Regions from separate parts of the Homo sapiens genome. Here all the other regions are linked to region 3. Evidence: fine-mapped expression QTL. A gene starts in region 3. Each other region holds a variant in brackets. All regions are shown on one strand. Distances are from middle to middle. Region 1 overlaps VLDLR-AS1 (VLDLR antisense RNA 1). Region 2 overlaps VLDLR (very low density lipoprotein receptor). Region 3 holds the start of VLDLR (very low density lipoprotein receptor). Region 4 holds the start of LOC105375955 (a long non-coding RNA gene).

Region 1 (5,150 bases), 78 kb after region 3:
CCTTGAACTCTTGTATCCACTCATCCCCCAGCCAGAGTTAAGTGATGGTGAACACCTGACCCATAGCTAGGCTACATTTCCATCCTTGAGACACTGAGGACAAACAAACCACAAGGTCAGTCCTTGTGGTTAAAACCAGAGCATATAAACACAGGAGCTATTATGGGGCAATCTTGTGGATTTAAGTGCGGAGAAAACCAGCCTTCCAAGATGAGACTGAAGCCACCATACAGAGAAGAACAGATAATATGGAGAGAGAATCTGAGGGATTCCCTCCTACTCCTATGTTTTGCTTGCATTTCTGCATTTGATTGCATGAGACACTCTCATATTCTTGTAATAAATTCTCTTTAGTGTCAAAGTTAGTTCAAGTTGATTTCAATGACTTGTAGCAAAAAATCTTTCACCACTATATCACACTTTCTGATTTCCCATTTCAATGAAGGATATTATACTAGACAGAAATAATATATACGGGGGAGAGATCAAACTTACTTAAAATATTAGAAACAAATTGTTTGGGAATCTTATTTGGGGAATTTGGTGGAATAATGCTGAGGGACTCTCTGCATTGTTAGGTTTGAAGCAATAGAGAATTTTCCCTTCAAGATGGAGTAGGAGCATGAAGAAAAAAATATTTCATGCTTAAAAACCATAGGCAACAGCCAACGACGGAGCAAAGCACCAAATAGTTAAACTAGGATCCATCAGAAACCTAAGCATCATTTGACCATGCTTCTTGAGCTTCAGCCCTCTTATCCAACCCACCACCAGATCCTGTGAGTTTCCCCATCTACCATTATCTTGAGTCTGTTTCCATCCACTCTAGTCTAAGTGACCTTTATTTCTCATGAGAACTCCAGCAATGGCCTTCAAGACGTAGATGGTGGACAGCTGCTCTTGCCACCAATGGTTCTCTATGCTGTGACTATAGAGCTGATCTAAAGTTCCTAACTGATCCTGTCAAAAGTTTTTCAGGTAATTTTAGTGGCTTCCTTCACTCTTCCTCATAAAGCCCCATAAAGTTCAGCCTGTGCAACCTCATCATGCACCCCACTCCACTGCTTATATATGTTCCTGATTATCAGCTTCTTTTTTTCTTGTTAGACAGGGTCTCTCTGTTGCTCAGGCTGGAGTGCAGTGGTGTGATCATGGCTCACTGCAGCCTCGACTCCCCAGAATCAAGCAATTTTCCCTCCTCAGCTTCCTCAGTAGCTGGCATGTGCCACAGGCATGTGCCACCATGCTTGGGTAATTTTTTTTTTCTTTTTTGGTAAAGATGGAGTCTCACTGTGTTGCCCAGGCTAGCCTTGAACTCTTGGGCTAAAGCAATCCGCTCACCTCAGCCTCCCGAAATGCTGAGATGATGTGTGTGAGCCACCGCACCCAGCCAACATCAACTTCTCCTCAGGCCCTTGCCTTGCCAAGCTGCCTTTGCTATGGGGCTTTTGCGCATGTTATTCCTCCTGGAACATTCTTTTCTGCCACCTTTACTCAGCTTTCCTTGGCCTCTCTGACTAGACTGATTATTCTTAGTATAGCACTGTGTACCCATCCTTTTAATCATTTGTTTTTGTAGCAGCTTTTCTCCCCACTCCCGCAGTATTTGGTTGTCTGTCTATTCTACTAGACTGTAAGCTCCACAAGGGCAGGAGCTCTCTGCTTTAGCCTATTGTTTTAGTCATAGCACCTAATAGAATGTGTAGCAGGGGATTATCAAATATTTGTTGAATAAATAAATATGCAGAAAGGTAAAAAATGTGAAAAGCAAGCAAACACACAAGGAGGAGCCTTCAACTTATATACTCTTTATCAGAGATTAGGTGTATAATTCAGTTGGTTCTAACTCATAGTTTTTCTTAGGTGCTAGGCTTGTCATCAACAGTCCTATTAATAATGCTAAAATTCCTTTAACAAATAAGGGTTTAAGGTTATCAGTAAATAAAATATAATTAGTGTTAGTAGTACTTCTAGGTCAGTCCATAAAGGCCTGTTGAATGGATGAGGTGTCCCTAAAATAGTAGTTTTAAACCCTAACATTTACTAAGTCCCTATGACCTTTGAGAAGGACTTGGAGGCTATGAAGGGAAAGAGAATTCCAATTACTAGCAATTTCCAGAGCTTCAGAGATGAAAGATGTCATCAAGACATGTTCTGAGGTCTGCAATTCTAGTAGTGAGTGTGGGATGGGCCAGAGTGATGGGAATGGAGGAGAGCCCAGGGACCATTCAAAGGAAGAAGCTGCTCATGAGCCCTGTGATATGCTGGCTA[G/T]GATAGGTCCCTTTTCCTTTTCTTCTATATATGTCCCTTTGAAGGTATGTGCACTTAAGTAGAAAATACTGTCCAAAGTAATTTACAGAATCAATGCTATTCCCATTAAACCATCATTGACATTCTTCACAGAATTAGAAAAAAACTATTTTAAAATTTATACAGAACCAAAAAAGAGCCTGTATAGCCAAGACAATCTTAAGCAAACAGAACAAAGCTGGCATTACGCTACCCAACTCCAAACTATGCTACAGGTTACAGCAACCAAAACAGCATGGTACTGGTACAAAAACAGACACATACACCAATGGAACAAGATAGAGATCTCAGAAGTAAGACTGCACATCTACGAGTATCTGATTTTTGACAAACCTGACAAAAACAAGCAATGGAGAAACGATTCCCTATTTAACAAATGGTGCTGGGAGAACTGGCTAGCCATCTGCAGAAAATTGAAACTGGACCCCTTCCTTACACCTTATACAAAAATTAATTCAAGATGGATTAAAGACTTAAATGTAGAACTCAAAACTACAAAAATCCTAGAAGAAAACCAAGGCAATACCACTCAGGACATAGGCACTGGCAAAGATTTTATGACAAAAACGCCAAAAGCAATTGCACCAAAAGCAAGTATTTGACAAATGGGATCTAATTAAACTAAACAGCTTCTGCACAGCAAAAGAAACGAGCATCAGAGTGAACAGACATCCTACAGAATGGGAGAAAATTTTTGCAGTCTATCCATCTGACAAAGAGCTAATATCCAGGGTCTACAAGAAACTTAAACAAATTTACCAGAAAAAAAACAACCCCACTAAAAAGTGGGCAAAGAGCATGAACAGACACTTCTCAAAAGAAGACATTTCTGCCACCAACAAACATATGAAAAAAGCTCAACAACACTGATCATTAGAGAAATGCAAATCAAAACCACAATGGGATGCCATCTCATGCCAGTCAGAATGACGATTATTAAGTCAAGAAACAACAGATGCTGGCGAGGTTGCAGGGAAATAGGATTGCTTTTACACTATTGATGGGAATGTAAATTTAGAAGACAGTGTGGCAATTCCTCAAAGATCTAGAACCAGAAATATCATTGACCCAGCAATCCCATTACTGGGTATATGCGCAAAGGAACATAAATCATTCTGTTATGAAGATACATGCACACTATGTTCACTGCAGCACTATTCACAGTAGCAAAGACATGGAATCAACCCAATTGCCCATCAATGATCCCATTTAATTAGATCCCATTAACCAACCCAAATGCCCATCAATGATAGACTGGATAAAGAAAACATGGTACATATGCACCATGGAATACTATGCAGCCATAAAAAGGAATGAGATCATGTCCTTTGCAGGGACATGGATGGAACTGGGAACCATCATCCTCAGCAAACTAACTCAGGAACAGAAAACCAAATACCACATTTTCTTACTTATAAGTGAGAGCTGAATGATGAGAACACATGGAGACAGGGAGGGGAACAACACACACCAGGGCCTATTGTGTATGGCAGCAGGAGGGAGAACATCAGGAAAAATAGCTACTGCATGCTGGGTTTAATGCCTAGGTGATAGGTTGATGGATGCAGCAAACCACATGGCACATGTTTACCTATGTAACAAACCTGCACACCCTGCACATGTATCCTGGAACTTAAAAAAACAACCCCCCAGAAAAATTTTAAAAAAAGAAAACACAAGTTACCCTGCTGGAGGAAGATTTTTCTTTTATCTAGACTATAAAGGTAGCCATATTTTTGCAAGAATTTCTGTATTAACATTCCATGTCAAGAGGAAGAAAAGAAAAGGAGATTCCAAGGGTAGAAGGATTAGTGCAGAAGCCCTCTGAGAGCATGGGAGGAAAGGCAGTTTGAGGAGGTGATGACACATGGATTGCTGGAGAGAAGGGTGGATGCCCTCAGGGAATGAGAAGGAAGGAAGGAGGAAGAGAGAAAACACAGGTTATTTGCCTGGGAATGAAGGACACAGACAATTCTGCTTTCAATGACCAGATTTTCTGACAAATATTCCCAGAACATAGCTCAGTAGAAATGCCAATTGCGTCAGGCAAACCTTTCTAGAGAATATCAGTTTTATTTTAGAAAGAATAGCCTGGCTGCAAAGAGAAATCTAAGATCGAGAAAACATCAAATTATGCCATGAGTTATTTTCATGAAATGAGATACTGCACAGCACTCTGAAAAAAACTTTATTGTTAAAATTCCGAGAAAGAGGAGCACTTGACATAAAAAGCACAGATCCTAAAGTCATGCTCATGACTTTAAATTTGTGTAAGCAACTTAATAACACTTGAAAATCTAACCTGTGGCAAGGCAAGGTGGCTCATGCCTGTAATCCCAGCACTTTGGGAAGCCGAGGCGGGCGGGTCACCTGAGGTCAGGAGTTCCACACCAGCCTGGCCAATGTGGGGAAACCCTGCCTCTACTAAAAAAAAATACAAAAATCAGCCAGGCCTGGTGGCAGGTGCCTGTAGTCCCAGCTACTCAGGAGGCTGAGGCAGGAGAATTGCTTGAACCCGGGAGGCAGAGGTTGCAGTGAGCTGAGATCGCATCATTGCACTCCAGCCTGGGTGACAAGAGCAAAATTCTATCTCATAAAAAGAAAAAAAAAAAGAAAGAAAAAAAGAAAATGTAACCTATTTATTTTATTTTAAAGTGAAACTGAGGATGAGGTAATTTGTGTTCCCATAACTGGATTCTTTCAGAGCATGCAGCATTCAGGGCTAAGGCGAGAAAAATCTCAAAAAGCAACTTTTATCTCTGTTTCATGGTTCCTGCCCCTGACGCCCCTGGAGTACATATTCTGGTCTTTGGAGCACTAGATTAATATTTCTTCATGTG
Region 2 (5,150 bases), 36 kb before region 3:
TTTAGCCAGGTGTGGCCTGTTCTCAGTCACCTACAAGAAGGAAGTGCTAGGCTAACATTCCTAACTAAGTAACAGTAGCTTTGACTTCTGTCTTTTTCATGGGAAGGGTAGAGAGGGGAAATTTGAGAGGATAATATACTGGCTGTCCATGGTGAGGCACTAACTGTACTAAATATGGCAAGAAAGGGACCATCTCTCAGTTTTTCAGCCTGAAGTGTCCAGACCTGGGTGGCCCTACTTGTTCCTAGAAAGGGGTGACTGAGTCATCTTCAGTGATTCAGTTGAGAAAAGGAAAAAGATTTGAGTAAAAGCTTTTATAAAAGGTCTCTAGAGAAAGGAAAGGCTCACAATTATCCCAAAAATAAACTTTTATTTAAATGTACAGTTCATTAGTAAAAAAAAGTTTATTGACAGGTCATCAGGACTCTGCATTCTAACATGTGCCTTTAGAATTCTGAAGATCCTGAGCATGATAATTTGGTTGTATATGCCGGACTCCTGAGGCATTACATGCTTTTAAATCGCATTCTAGTATCAAGTGACATTTAAAAAGAGCAAGATAGTTTTGTCAAAGCCAGTCATTTTGTTCAAAAAAACTCTCTTCCTCCTTGCATGTGTGTTAACTGAGAAATACCCAAGTCTGGTAGTTCTACCAATCTGGTATATTCCAGAATACTTAAGATCCAGTGCTGGAGTTATAGCATCATTGAGTTACAAGCCACAGTTCTTCCTGTCTTTTTGGCCATGTTTCTCCCTATAGGAGAGCCTTGAAACTTAAGATTTGTTGTGGTACAGTTTGTTTTCTCCCAATATCTTATACATAGGAATGAAGTTGCCTGCTTATAAATTCCTTTAGGGAATCTTTATCATTTTCTTTGCAATCCAACAATCTACTTCTACTTCACTTGGATGGCCAAGGAAAATAATTCTGGAATGTCTAGCGTCTTGAAGGTATAACACGTAACTGAGTTAATCTGTGCTGACCTGATGTAGTAGTGCTAGTAGTACACTTCCATTACACCACCATACTGGATGCCAGCCATAGCTGGCATCTGAGAAACTGTTGAAGGATCCTAACATCAGCAATGAGGAGGACTCAGCAAACATGCAATGCGACATCCAGCTCAATCTTTGTACAGTACTGCATCCCCTTCTAAGAGAAGACGGCAGTAAGCACATAGGATTTGGAACCATAGATTGTTTGTAGCCTCAGTTTTTACCTATGTAAAATGGAGATACCTATTAGGGTTGCTGTGAAGAGCAAGTAAAAGACTTGGGAGCACTTACTTAGTACAAAAGTAAGCATATGGTAAGAATTTAAAGGAGATTTTAAGTGCTTTGGCAGCCATCTAAAGACTATGCAGGCTCCCAAATATTTGTTTCCATGTCCTAGGAGGTAGTCAAAAGAACTGAGGCAGAAACATTCCATTTATGTTTCTAGGGTTTAAACCATGCAGTCTTTTAAGCCTTCTTAAGTATGCAAGATGCTATCACTCCTTAAATATCAGACTTAGATCTCTTCAGACAGGTGTAGTGGAGAACACTTCGGTCACCATCTAACACATTACATTCATCATAGATAAAGGTACCTGTGACTTTCACCGGTAAAGTCACTTACCGGTGCCTGTGTGTGACAGTAAATACAGCCCTAGCATTGATGTGATATTCAGTAGTGACATCTGCCCTGCACATATTAGATGCCAGACACTGTGCTGAGCTTTTTGTGTGCATCTCACTTAAATCTTACCTTGTCACAGTGAGACAGTCCCCATCGTCTCTACTTTACAGAGGGAGTTAGTAACTTGCCCAAGGTACCACACACAAGACACGGAAGTCTATGCTGTTAACTACATTGCCTGCTGCTTCTAAACAGAACCACCTTGTCACCCATCTGACTTTTTCCTTGAGCGCAGTGAAGAAAAAAGCCATTTTTGATATGCCATGAGGTAACCTGCGGAGCACAAACTCCCCACCCGCAGCTGGTCTCACTCCTGTCTCAGTGTTTTTGCATTGAGATTTTTACAGTGAGATTTACAGGAGAACACTGGGTCATGGTCCTACTTTGTTCTTTTTCTCATTAGCCAGGCTCAAAAACGTGAAACGGACTCAGGAGACATGATAGAGAGATGGAACACCACTGTTATCAGTTTGTTAGTAGCTTATTTATCTATGGATCCCTAAGTTTCATATCTAGAGCCTCACTGGTAAAATGCATTCAGCTTTCCTGTGTGAAGGTAGATGTGAAAGGGATATGCAAAGATGGCTGATAATCCTTCACATGCAACTGTTTCGGCTAAAAATCCTCCAGGCTGGATTAGAGAGAAATAAGTTCGAAAAACGCCATTGTTCCCTCTTCAGATTCATTCCCTCCATATTTGGAAATAAGTACCTTTGAAGATTTTTGTACTTTTATATATTTCTGAACTCTCATAGTTTAGGCCCATGATATGGCTGAAGCATGGATGTACAATTTTTAGTTTTCCCAAGAAAAATCATACTTGTTAGGATATTTACTCGAGTAGTTTTTTAGTATTACAATTCTAGAAGAGAAGTCATTATAAGCCCCTTCTGGCCTTAGAGACTATATAATACCAAAAATACCTAAAAACCTTTTCTTTAAGAGAGTGAAATCGCTTGATGTGCCCTCCCACTCCGGTTAGATGCTTAACAGACGACAGCAGACAATGCACCTCAACCAGGGCTAAGTGTGCACACTTGGCCAGCAGCCGCCAACAGAACGGGCAGCAGCAGCAGTTAGCACTGACGCAACTATCGCTGCTATTGCCACTACCATCTCCCCACTAACAGGGCTTGCAGAATATGTAATACCCAGGGGATTATATATATGTGGTTTTTAGGCACCGCCTCATCACCCACAATAAGGGAA[G/T]CTTCTTTCTACTCTTTAGCTAGTTGCTGCTCCTACTTGTTAGGAGTTTGATGTATCAGACCCTTTTGAGAAATGTCTATGTCACAACTACGTTCAGGATAAAACAATTATGAAACTGAAGGGCTCAGATTTGGGGATCAAGATTAGCAGGTTGTATTCATAGTACTTCAACTTAAATTAGCAAAAGTATATCTGCTTTTTGCAAGTTTTTGCCACCATTGAAAGCAAACAGTATAGCTTTCATTTGGATTCAAAATAATAAATTGTTTTACTTGGGTAAGATTTCACTAGTAAGAATTCTAGGAAATTATTCCAGTTAGATTACGTAATAGAGATAAGTGACCCCTAGAATCTTTAGGTTTGGGGTAAAGATTGTTAAAAGGTAGACTTTAAGTTGGTCTACCATTTCTACAGTGTTCTTAACTGAAGAGTTAGTCTTTTAATACCCTGTAGTTTGCTATTTAAAGCTTGGCTTCTCATTTTTGAGAAGGGCTACTTGACTTCCACAGATACAAGGAACAGAAGCAAATGCCAAAGTGAAAGCCTCAATTTTTTTTTTTTTTTTTTTTTTTTTTTTGCCTTGTATTCATCAAGAACTAAAGAGGCAGCGATACCTAGGCTTTAAAACACCTACTAGAATGTTTTAAGGGAGCTAGTTGAACAACTGGGACTATTTTTTTGCCAAATAGATTAGCTTGCAAAGGGCACTTAAAAATTTGGACAGAGGAACTTGGCTGGATTTCTTTACCAGAGGCCACAAATCTGTTTATTCATCTATCATCAATCTTTGTGGCAATTCCTAAAATTTCTGGAGGGTCCACTTTCACTTTGTGTGACAGGCTCATCTAACTCCAAATATTCTCCTTTAGTGTATGATAAGCTTCATATTTTACCTCTTAATTATCTTCTACATTGAACTCTAGAGACAGAGCAAACTTATCCTAACACATTTCACATAGAATTCAAGTTATTTTTTGGGTGATAAAGCCGAGGCCTGTTATCATTCATGCACTATTATTGCAAGCTGTATTGACTAGTAGTTTAGTCATATAACTATTTTTTTCTTTTATTTTTATAAATTTTTTTTTTGTAGAGACAGGGTCTCACCATGTTGCTCAGGCTGGTCTCGAACTCCTGGCCTCAAGTGATCCTCCTGCCTTGGCCTTCCAAAGTGCTGGGATTATAGGCGTGAGCCACCATGCCTGGCCCACCAATATATCTATTCTTATTTCAATAGGAATATCTAGTTACTTTGTTTCTACAAATGAGTTTGTACCTCGTAGGTACAATGAGTTGTACCTTGGCTTCTTACTGGGGAGGACGTGGTAAAAAAAAATGAGACGTTTTAGACTCTTTGAGGGTTGGAAATTTTACCCAGAACATGAAAGAACATACTAGGGACAGGAATTCAAAAGATGATGATAGAGAATAATACTTTATTTGCCAAAACAAACTTTGGGCCTTATAATTAATTAATACTGTATAATCCTTATAATGGGGAAAGCAATAGTATCAAACTTCAAGCTTCTAAAGGGAATTTGGTATTACTCCAGTTAAAAAAAAAAAAATCCATGTTTTTTGTACCACAGCAGGGTCAGAGCAGCAGCCAAACTCTGAAATGGCTTTCAGAGTTCATGATGAATGCTAACCTACTTACCAAACAGGCACTTCAGCTACTCACTGTCAGCAGGCCACATCCTGTTCAGTGTGATGACTAAATGTAGAGTGAGGAAAAGGTGGAGAGCAGACAGTTCTATATTCATGACTACAGCCTTTTCCTTCTACATGCTTGACCTCCAAACCTCCCATGAAAAAAAAGTCCAAGGCTATCTTTTCTTTTTCATTCAGTTGACCAAAATCACAAGGGGGCATCCCTTAAGACAACAGAACCAACTTCCCCTTCATCTAGTAGGATTAATGTCCTTGCTTAAGCCACAAACAAGATGTTAACTGCCTTATATTTCATATGCAAGTGAAATATGAGTCATCCACTGATTCACGTAGCAACGCAAAACATCTTCTCTTCATCCTCTTGGTACTGTGTTGGTCGGTCATTTAATTCCAGAGGAATTGCTGTACCTTCCACAGCCAACTCTCCACCTCACTTGTGACACACAGCATGCACCCGGTGCTTCAAGTCTTTTGTCTTTCCTTGCTTCCAGACATCCTGAGACTTTAGAGAAAGAAAGTAATGGCCAACCTGATGGAAAATTCACTAAACTCCCTGTACAATTTTTTCTTTGTCTCAAACTCCTCATCTGCT
Region 3 (5,150 bases):
GCCGGTTGGGATTGGTTTAGGGTCAATAACTGCCTCAGCCCAAATTTCCTCCAGTTCTGGAAGAATCTGCTTCCTCTCCTTTGAAGAATTTGTTTTTCCATTGTTCATGGCATGTCAAATATTTCACATGTGACAAAGTGAAAAGGATCCTCACCTGCCCAATACAAGGTGAACATCTGGCTTTGACTAACTCATGTCAGTAGTTTAGGTGCATTCCTAGCATTCTATAAGGTAAAGTTAACCTCTAGTGGAAGGGACATGCAGCAAAAACGAAACTTTTCTCTCACCTTCCTGGATAATTGTCCCTCCTTCTGGTATACCTTAGCGTTTTGAAATGTTACAAAAGGCATAATGCAAGTCATGGCACTATACTGAGAAATCGTTTAATAAGTTAGTATTACTCATCTATTAATGATTAATGCTAGCGTTTGGAAACTCTTGTAAGCAGAGCTTTTCTAGGCTCTCAGGCTTGTTACACATCAGATTCCATGTTCACTACACATTCGTCCTCTTCAAAGAGTCCAGGCAGGGGAAGGCATTTGAGAGAACAGCCCGTAAGAGCCTGTGGAGTCTCCTACTTTCCATTGAAAATAACACTGCCCATGCTGCCCACTTAAGAGTCCGCGGAACCATGTGACCAACCTAAACGTGATCGCACCGCTAACCAATCGCAGAGGGCGGAAAGGCCAGTCCCAGTTCACACGCTCCGGACAGTGGCAACCAAAGGGCAGGGGCATTCGGAGACGTAAAAACCCCAGGCGCTGCCCGACAGGCTCCTTGACCACATGCTTTAAAGTTCGCTCTCACTTCAGGAGCACGTGACTGCAGGCCGGCAGGGCCCCTGAAGCCACCCGGCGACGGGAGCCAGGGACTCTGGAACGGGTGTTAAGGGCCTGGGCGGCTTTCAGTCCCAATTCCCTGCAGCTGGCAAGCAAGCCCCTCGGCGTCACATCTGAAGATCACTTCGGGGACGCGCTAGGATTCCGACTGAGTCCTCTCAGAAAGGCTTCCTGTCGCCTGTCCAGGAAAGTTACGAGGCCCCAAGTGGGAACGTGGCTGACGACCAGGCGGGGCCCCCAGGCCCCCGCGGCAGAGTCTGGGGACCCGACAGTAGTCACCGCCGCCCTTCCCAACAAGACAGGGCCACACGCTCGCTCTCGCGCTGCTCCTTTGAGCTATTGTGTAGAATGAAGGCTAATTACAGTCACTAGCCTAGGACTCAATTCCTCTCGAGGAAACGTCACCGGGAAGGAGGGTCAGCAAACTAACCTGATTAAGTCTCCCCTCCACTCCCCCTCCGCGTTCAGCTACACGGGAGACCCGAGCGGTTTCCAAACGCCGCCCGAGGCGGGGAAAAGGGAGAGGAGAAGCGCCCAGAGCAGAGTCCTGCGTAAAGCCCCGCCGCTCCCCTACCCCGCACGCCGGAGAGGCGGCCCCGCGCCGGGGGAGTCGCAGTCCGGGTGCCCTCGGCTCCGCGGAGCCTCCCGGCCGCCGCCCACCGAACGTGCGCCAGCTCGCGGCCGCCGGAAGACTCTGAAGCCCGGCCGGCCCCTGGCGCTCCGCGTCCCCGGAGGCGCTCACCTTCTCCCCCCGTCCGCTCCCGCACTCCCCGGGGTTCGAGGGTGCGCCCGAGGCTGCCGCACACGTCTTGGCCCTCTGCCTCCTTCCCAACACTGCGCCTGGCAGAGGAGGCAGAACCATTGTTCAATGCTCAGAAGCCCACGCACCTCGGCGCCCGTCAAGAGGGCGAGAAACGAGGCGAAGCAGCGGCTCTGGGGGAGGCGGAGTGAGGGGCAGAAGACTAGTTCAGGCGAGGCGTCGGGGCACCCCGAACCCCGCTGTTCCCCAAGCCCGGCTCCCTTTAGCCTCGGCGCTGACAGCTCAGAGGCGCCACCACGGAGGGGAGGGAGGGAAGGCGAGGAGAACCGAGAGGCGCCTCCTAGGAGGCGGGTGGGCAAACGGAGACCTACGCCTCGGGGTCTCCCGGTGCCCCGGCTGGGTCCCGCCCGCCGGCGGAGGGGCGCGTCCTCACTCACCGGTTCCGGTGGCGCCGCTCTCCCGGGGCGCCCAGCACAGCGCGAGCAGCAGCCAGAGCGCCCAGAGCGCGGACGTGCCCATGGTGCCCGCCTGGATGGTGCCGCCGCCGCCGCCGCCGCCGCCGTTCGCTCCGCACGACAAGTTACCAGTCCTTCCGAAAGGAGGAAGAAGGTGGGGGCGGGGAGGGGAAAGGGGGAGAAGGAGGGGAAGGAGTTGGCGGGGGAAGGGAGCGGGGAAGAAGAGGGCACCCCCTCCCCTACAACTTGCACAGTCTCCTCCCCACCCACCCAGCCACCTCCCCGGGCTGCAGCAGCAGTGCAAGCCGAGCCTGCGGGCAGAAAATAATGCAGGCGCTGCAGAGGAGGGGAGGCAAGGGGAGAGGAGGGAAGGGAGAGGGGGTGGGGAGCCGAGAGCAGAAGAGAGCACAGAACGGAGAGGAGCCGGTAGCGGAGCACCCGCACCGGCGGCGGCCGGAGAGCGGGGTGAGCAGCGGGGAGGGGGCCGGAGGGGGCGTGGTCAACGGGAGGCGCGGCGGGCGGGCGGGAGCGCGGCGGCTTCGGCCCTCCTTTCCCTCGACGCGCTCCTCTTGCACGCGCCGGGCAGCCGGGTGCCCGCGCGGGGAGCGTGCGAGTGTGAGCGTGCGTGAGTGACCGCGGTCGTGGTCGTGGCTGCCGCCGCCGCCACCCGGACCGCTCTAGGGGCCCGGCTGCTCCGCGCGTTCGCCTGGGGCTCACGGGGGCCCGGGGCGACCGCTGGTTGGCTCGCGCGCCGCCCTCGCCTCCAATCCCGGGTGCCTGTCCTAATTTCCTGATCCAGGGAACCTGCCGCCGCAGCGGCTGTGCGCTCCCTACAGTCATTACTGTACCCTCCCGGCAGCCTCCGGCAGAACACGCAGCAGCAGCAGCAGTTAGCGCTGATGCAACTATCGTTGCTGTTGCCACCGCCTCCCCACTGACGGGGCGTGCACCTGGGGGGTACTTGCAGTTTCCAGGGGCAACAAGCATCTCTCTACCACCCTCTCCTGCGCCCCTGAGAGAGGCTGGTAGGTAGCATCTTCTTCGGGCCTCCTCTATCCACTCAGAAAGTGATGAAGCGGAGGGGCTCCAAACGTTTGGGCTGCTCAAAAGTGGGGTTTGGGATGCCGGTCTCAATCGCACGCTGAGATGCCGTTTTGCCGAAAACTAAATGTGTCTTTAAGTGAGAGAGTGTGTATGTTTGAAAGAGAGTGCGCGCGGTTGTGGCTGGTCCTCTGTAATAGAACAAGACTGAAATAACCCAGCCTGGGATGAGGAGAAGGGAAATTGCTAGCGCAGCTTTGCATTTGCTCATCAACGATTATAGTTAATTGCTAATTGCACAAAATGATAGTTTGAGGGCCTGTAATTAAAAGCTTAACCTTTTCTTGTTTGGAAGAGAGGGGCCCCATACGTTTATTCCTCTTGATATACTTTGTAACATTCAATTACAAGAATCGAGGAAAGAATAAAGGAAGCAAAGACAAGACTCCTAGAAAGGGTTGGTTCTTCTTTTGTGCCTGACAGTACCTGAGTCTATAATTTGCTTTTTGTGTACTTCAGTTTTCTTGCACACTTAGCCCTGGTTGAGGTGCATTGTCTGCTGTGGTCTGTTGAGCATCTAACCAGAGTGGGAGGGCACATCGAGCGATTTCACTTTCTTAAATAAAAGGTTTTTGGTATTTTGAAAAAGTTGTTTTTATCTTAATTCAAACTTGGAAGGTTTCAATAATATCATATTCTGACTCTATTCTGTTGGTGATCTGAAGAGCAGCGGGCACTGCCTCACTGTCTTCTCCTTGCCCTGGTTCTCCTGGAAATTTGTCAAGGCTAGCAATCAGAGGAGATGTTTATTAGGAACTTACTATATCCAGGAGACACACAGGAGAGGAAAATTCCAGTCAGGATAGGTTTCTGTGGGCCAAAGATATCCTGATTGTGACTGCTAAGCATGAAAGGGCTTAACTCTACGTATGGATGGTATCTTGCACTATAGCTCATTTTGAATGCTATTTTGCCCACCCTGTGGTTACATAGTTGATACAAACTGCAGCAGCCACACAGGTTGCATGTGAAACAACTGAAATTTGTTTGTATGACATTTAGTAGTGAAGATGCATGCCGGTGTTATTCACCTAATGGCATTGAGATGTGATAGGAAAACCTTAGTGCATGATGTCTTTCATATTCTCAGGGTTCTGAAATGCCATCTGATGAGCTACTGCTTTACAGAAGAGGAAAGGAGTAGAAGGGATGGGTGGAATCAATACAAAAAGAGGCAGCATTAATAAACAGTCATATGACTTGTTTTTAATACTTTACTCAGAGATACAGGTATACTACAAGCTATACATTGATATGGTATAATAAGACTTAACTTTGAAAAACGTGTGTGAGTACTTTCTAATTCTCCAAGGGATATAAATAAACTTTCAGTGAACTTAGCTGCAGCTCTGTATTCAATCCTGTAGCTTTTTTGTTGACTCAAAAGAAAGCATAACTTTTGGCTCCATCTCTGATTGACTGTGTAACTTGGGAAAAATCACTGTGCCTCTCTGTGTCTGCCTTTTGGCCTGTAAACTGAAAAGAAAGCCAAGCCACATTATATCAAAGTGCTCCGTGGCCTCAAGGACCAGCTCTCTGCAAGGTGTTGTTTATTAGAAGAAAAAGGTTGTATGGAGAAATTCATTGGATTATGATAGAAAGTAGCTAATAACTAAAAAGATAAATTGATGATAAGTGGATATTGAAGTGGTTGAACTAACAGAGCTAATTGATCATAAGTGGAGACTGAAATGGTTGAACTAACTGGGTTCAGAGAAGTTGACACTGCTGGATTCCCGACGCCGTCAGGTAAATGCAGAGGCAATCCCATTCACTCCTACAATCCACCACATTCATTTATTTGTTGAAGCAACACATAGTGAGCATCCCTGGCTAACGGGCACTGTGCAAAGTAGTGGGCATACAGAAGTGCTTATCTAGGAAGCTCAGCATCTGGTAGGGGAGGCAGGCAAGTGGGCAACTGTAGTACCCTATGTATAGCACTCTGATTAAGAGATGCTTAAAGTGCTAGAAGATTGCAAGGAAGAAGCAGCT
Region 4 (5,150 bases), 330 kb after region 3:
TCTAATGAGTCTATCTATGAATAAGGAATGGGTTAATAAATGCTACTATATCCATAGCCATTCCGTATGCAACAGTTAGGAAGAATGAGGTTAATCTGTATATATTAATAGGAAAAGAAATATTAGTGAAATAAGAAAACAATTTACTGAACACTATATATAACATGATTTTTAAATTTTTTAAATATGAAAACCATTTTTTCTGTATTTCTGTATAAGAGCCTAAATGCACAAAAGAAGGTAACAACAGTTACCTCTAGAAAGGGGTATGGTCTAGAAAGCGTATGGTCAAAGTAGACTTTAGCTTTACTTTTATGCTTAGATTTTAAATTTTACAACTAAAATGTGTTCATGTATTATTTGTATAATTAACATTTTTAAAAAATAAAAGGGAAGCATAGCTAATGGATGTTCAGGCTGAGCCATAAATTTGTGCAGCAGCTATGTGAGCTTGTTCTCTGCTGAGGAGGGAGATGACGTGTCTGAACTGTGAGCATCCAAGCACAGCAGTGCAGAGCTGCTTAGAGTGGCTGCTCCTCCGGCTCTGAAAAATTATGAGCCAAGACAGAGGAAAGCAGGGTTCCCCAGATGCCACTGCAGTGACAATCATCTCCAAGGCTGTCTGGCAGGAAGGTACAGGCTGATGGGATGGCAGAGGCCCCTGCTTCCCTCTGCTGATGCCCAGAGAGGCGAGGGTCAGGGAGTGAGGGACAAGGGAAGAGTAGAGGGAGAGAGTATTGGAGTCATCCAAGACAGACATTGGTACCTGGTAATACCCGGTAACTGTGCCAAGAGCCAGGCCTTTCCATAGCTGAGAGTTCAGGGGATGTGATTTCTCCCCCCGTCCTTCATCCCCTCTACTCTAAACAGGGTGATTTCTCTGTGTTGGCACCAAGTGCAAACCCTCCTCACACCACAGTCATAGAGCCAGATGATAGCTCAAAAAGCTGTCTTGGTCACTCCTTGCTAGGAAGTTAGGAATTAAAGAGTCCCTGGAAAAAAGTAATCACAATACATATAGAATGTTCTTTTATCTTCCCTGGAAACCAAAATATTTGTTGTCCCTTTGTGAGTTCAATTTCTTATTTTTTAAAATTTTCACAGAATGGGATTACACCACCTTGCTTGGTCTCCATCCAACTGTCCATGTATTCGTTAATCCACCCAATCACATTTATTTAGCACCAACTACATATATATCAGTACTACAGGATACCTGATCTTGAAGGTGGAAAGTTTCAAAGAAGGCTTTGAGGAGGTAACATGAAGAATGGGTACAGTAAGTAAGCCATATCCGGGCAAACTTTTGGGAGTGTGACTGTAGGGTGAGAGTAGGATGAGGGAAGGGACCAAGCAAGAGTACTCCAGGCTAAAGGGAAAACATGGGTTGCAGCACATTTTAGCAACTCCAACTCCCCTATACCCACAGAAGAAAAAAGCAAGTGTGGAGCAACTCTAAACTTAGTGATGAGGAAGTAAGTTAGAGTCCCTGTGAAATGGGAGAGTTCCCGGTTCCCCCTCTCAGTACTTGTGACAGGGGTGTGGAGTGACTGACAGGTCACCGTCCTGCTGCTTCTCAAACCCCTTGCGGGAAAGGGAGCACGCAGAAGGGCAGATGCAGAGCTGGGGCGAGCACTTTGGGCTCCAGCCCCATGGTAGGGTCTCGAGGTGGGCGCCTGCAATCCCAGTGCTACAATGCTGTCTTAGCCTTGCTGTCCACAGATGGCTTTAAGTGTTAACCAGCTCTATGGACCCTCTGCCTTTTTGCAAGGTCAGAGGGCCAGTGTGAAATCTTTCTGTATCCCGAGTTCTTATCCAGCATCCCGGGAGTATCGGGTCACACACGGGCTTGAAGGATCAACGCAGGGTTTCGTCGAGTGGTGGAGGTGGCTCTTGGCGGGATGGATGGGAAAGCGGAAGTGGGGGATGGAGTGGGAAGATGATCTTCCCCTGGAGTTGGGCTGTCCAGCTGCCAAACTCCTTTCCAACCACCCCCAGCTGAACGTTCCTCTTCCTGTCTCCCTGCTGTGTCCTTCTGCCGTCCCTCTGCTTCTCTTCATCTGCTGGTCTGCTCCTGGAGCCTGGGGTTTGAGGTTTATATGGGTGCAGGATAGGGAACGTAGCAGGCCGAAAGGCAACTTCTTGAGTGCAAAAACAGGAATGCCTGTCCTCATTTAGGGCCAAGGTTCTTCAGGCTTGAGGGTGGGGTTCTTGCCAGGAAACCACCCTCTTCTACTCAGTATCTCCCTGTCTCCTGTCTATATCACCTGTGGGATGCTAGATGCGTTTTTACAAAGCACAGGAACATCATTCAGAAGGATTTTCATGTGTGTTAATGAAATATCAAAAAGGCTGTGGAGACAGAAAT[G/A]CAAAGTCATTGAGGACTGGAAACCGAATTTCTGACAAAGAGAAGCTTGGTTAAGAGGGTGATGGCATTTTTTACCTCCAAACTGTGGACAGCTGTACAGTCTGAAATGCTCAGGAGAGACTCCATCAAGCTGAAAGCAGGAATCAAGTTTCCCAAAGCCAGGCTGTTTGAGCCCTTTACCTCCTTGGCCAGCCTTTTTTAATTTTTTAATTAAAAAATCAGTTCCAGTGGTTCTCCCATGCTCAAGAAAAGCAACCGTACACTCTAACTTACTTTCAAATACCTTGCCACTTTTACTCCAGATAGAGCCACATAAAAGCCAAGAGATAAATCAAATTGCTTGTCAGAATATCAGGTAGGCTAGGGACTGCTGGGATAAAAAAAAACCTGCTGTGGACTTCAATGGCTCTAGAATTGGCAAAAACATGTGAAATCATTCCTGAAGAGCTCAGGTGAGTGCCCTGCAGGTAGCCAGGCGGGCACTCTACCCTCCTTTAGGCTCTGAATCCAGCCCAGATTCATGATAACGTTTGCAAATGGTGTATTCATAAAACACTTTTTGGTGATACTCTAAAAGGGAGCTGGAGGGTCATTTTGTTAATGATTAACTGACAACACAACCAAAGCTCATTGAGCAGCTACTGTGTGTCCTTGGAGTTAGAACTCAAGGATGGAATGGGGGAGGGGGATGGCTGCAAAATGGTGTAAAAAGAATTCAAGACTGGCAGGTATCATGCTGGACCCCTGTTGACTTCATTCAATAGGAATGGCATCGTGTTTGAGAGGCTAAAGACCTGGCACCAGTGAACAAGACATAGGGTTTATTGAGGGAACTTACATACAGGGCAGTCCCGTCCAGTGGTGGTGGACTAGACAGGAGAACTGTAACAACTTGTATAAAGCATGCAGTTTATATAGTGTTTTCACTTAACACCCTCCTCCTAGGAACCTCTACCCATTAACCTTCACTTAACCCAAAACAAAGAGCCTTGATCCTCTGTACAGCCTGTGCTCCACAGGATGGGCCAAGGGATAAGGAATGAATCTCCATGTTGGCTACTTCTGGATTCCTTAGCTTACAGCTACAAACACACATTCTTCTTAGACCATAGGGTCATTCTCAGAGTGTGCCTAAGTTATGTTATTGCTGTCAGGTGTGTCTGTCATACAGAAGGCTCTTGATTGGATGTAGTACACAGTGCACATTAGGGAGGGGCCTTAGAGTCCCACTTTCCTGTTCATTCACTGTGTGGCTTTGATCTGTGCACTTCAGTTTCCTCTTCTATAAAATGGGATCAATACTATCTTCTAGGCCAGGTGAGGTGGTTCACGCCTGTAATCCTAGCACTTTGGGGGGCCAAGGCGGGTATATTGCCTGAGCTCAGGAGTTCGAGACCACCCTGGGCAACATGGTGAAACCCTGTCTCTACTAAAAATACAAAAAAAGATAGCTAGGCGTGGTGGCGCATGCCTGTAATCCCAGCTACTCCCAGGCTTGAACCTGGGAGGCGGATGTTGCAGTGAGCTGTGATCGCACCACTGCACTTCAGCCTGGATGACAGAGTGAGACTCCATCTCAAAAAAAAAACAAAAAAAAAAAACAAAAAACAAAAAAAAAAACCCTCTTCTACTTCAGGTGGTTACAATTAAAAGAGATAAGCATAAAGCATTTAGTTCAAAGAAAATTAGGCATTACTACAAGGGCAAAAAGTAGACTGCTAGGCAGCTTTTTATGAGTGAGCCAGGGAAACAGTAGGAGCCTAGAGGTTCTGGACATTTTTAAAATAAGGGCAGTGCAAATTCTAGCTATATATATCTCCTGAGGGCAATGCCTCACAAACGAACGCATTGGGTTTCCTTTCATTCTATATTGGTTCAGTTCTACATAGTTACAATTTGAATTTTTCAAATATTCAAGTTATGGAAATCACCCTTTGCAAAAACAACATTAAAATAATTAGAATCTGAAAAACAGATGCATTCTATTTGGAATGTAAATTAAGCCTTTAAGAGGAATTAGCTGTGGTCTATACTTAACACCTGCCAGCTCGTCACAGCTATTTCTCCCTCTTGGACCTGGTTAACGTGACAGAGGCATAAAACCTGTTGAAACATGAAACTATCCCAAATGGAAAATGCAGATGATTCACTACAGGTAAACTAACTTAGTCAATATTCATTACAAGTTGATGCAAATTATCACAGTAACAGTTCCTTCAAAAGACTGGTTGGTGAGGTTGTGATATACTAATTAAAATTATCTGGTTATCTGAAGCTCATTATTCACCTTCTTCAATTCTGCCTAAAATTAACCTCTTCCATTTCAGTAAATTCATCAGAAAATTTATTTGAATGAATTAGTTTATTAATTCACCACTTACTACTGAATTTCCATTGTGTGTCAGGCCCTGTAACACCTATTTTAGGGGTGTTACATATCATTGACCAAACATATCAGGCCCTGACTTCATGGATTTTCCTTTATAGAAGGACAGACAAAAAACTGAAAAGAAATATATATTAATATTGTCAGGTAGTGATTAAGTGTTGTAAAGATCAAGAAACTATAGGATGGAGTTACTTTAGAAAGGCTGGTCAAAATAGCCTCTCAGCAGAGGTGACATCTGAACAGACATAGGATGGAAAGGGGCAGCATGCCATATGGTTATCTAGAGATAAGCATGGTCCAGGGCAGGGAACAGTATGTGCAAAGGCCCTGAGGTGCTCAACATGCTTAAGGAGCAGAAAGCAGGGGTGGACAGGTTTGAGAGGCTAGGGGTAA

Evidence for each region. PIP is the estimated chance that this variant, and not a neighbour inherited with it, causes the effect. A credible set is the group of variants that fine-mapping cannot tell apart.
Region 1: its variant is the best candidate, but not a certain one, in a credible set for the expression of VLDLR in thyroid (GTEx, PIP 0.56).
Region 2: its variant is the best candidate, but not a certain one, in a credible set for the expression of VLDLR in whole blood (TOPMed, PIP 0.81).
Region 4: its variant is the best candidate, but not a certain one, in a credible set for the expression of VLDLR in whole blood (INTERVAL, PIP 0.56).

The regions. Positions count from the first base shown.
Region 1 is chr9:2,541,010-2,546,159 of GRCh38, reverse strand. All of the region lies in intron 1 of VLDLR-AS1 (VLDLR antisense RNA 1), which reads left to right. Among named protein-coding and RNA genes, the nearest start is that of VLDLR, 78 kb to the left of the region's middle. The variant G/T (reference allele first, on the strand shown) is at 2,272.
Region 2 is chr9:2,655,257-2,660,406 of GRCh38, reverse strand. VLDLR (very low density lipoprotein receptor) reads right to left here. Exons shown (of 19, transcript NM_003383.5): 19 at 351-5,150. The region is part of intron 2 of LOC105375957 (a long non-coding RNA gene); the gene reads left to right. Among named protein-coding and RNA genes, the nearest start is that of VLDLR-AS1, 35 kb to the right of the region's middle. The variant G/T (reference allele first, on the strand shown) is at 2,888.
Region 3 is chr9:2,619,158-2,624,307 of GRCh38, reverse strand. VLDLR (very low density lipoprotein receptor) reads right to left here and starts at 2,521. Exons shown (of 19, transcript NM_003383.5): 1 at 2,037-2,521. The coding sequence starts at 2,118. VLDLR-AS1 (VLDLR antisense RNA 1) reads left to right here and starts at 1,935. Exons shown (of 4, transcript NR_015375.2): 1 at 1,935-2,208. RefSeq lists silencers at 1,387-1,476, 1,487-1,576, 1,847-2,116, 2,727-2,806 and an enhancer at 2,685-2,979.
Region 4 is chr9:2,284,910-2,290,059 of GRCh38, reverse strand. It overlaps LOC105375955 (a long non-coding RNA gene), which reads right to left and starts at 960. Exons shown (of 4, transcript XR_929426.3): 1 at 767-960. The variant G/A (reference allele first, on the strand shown) is at 2,369.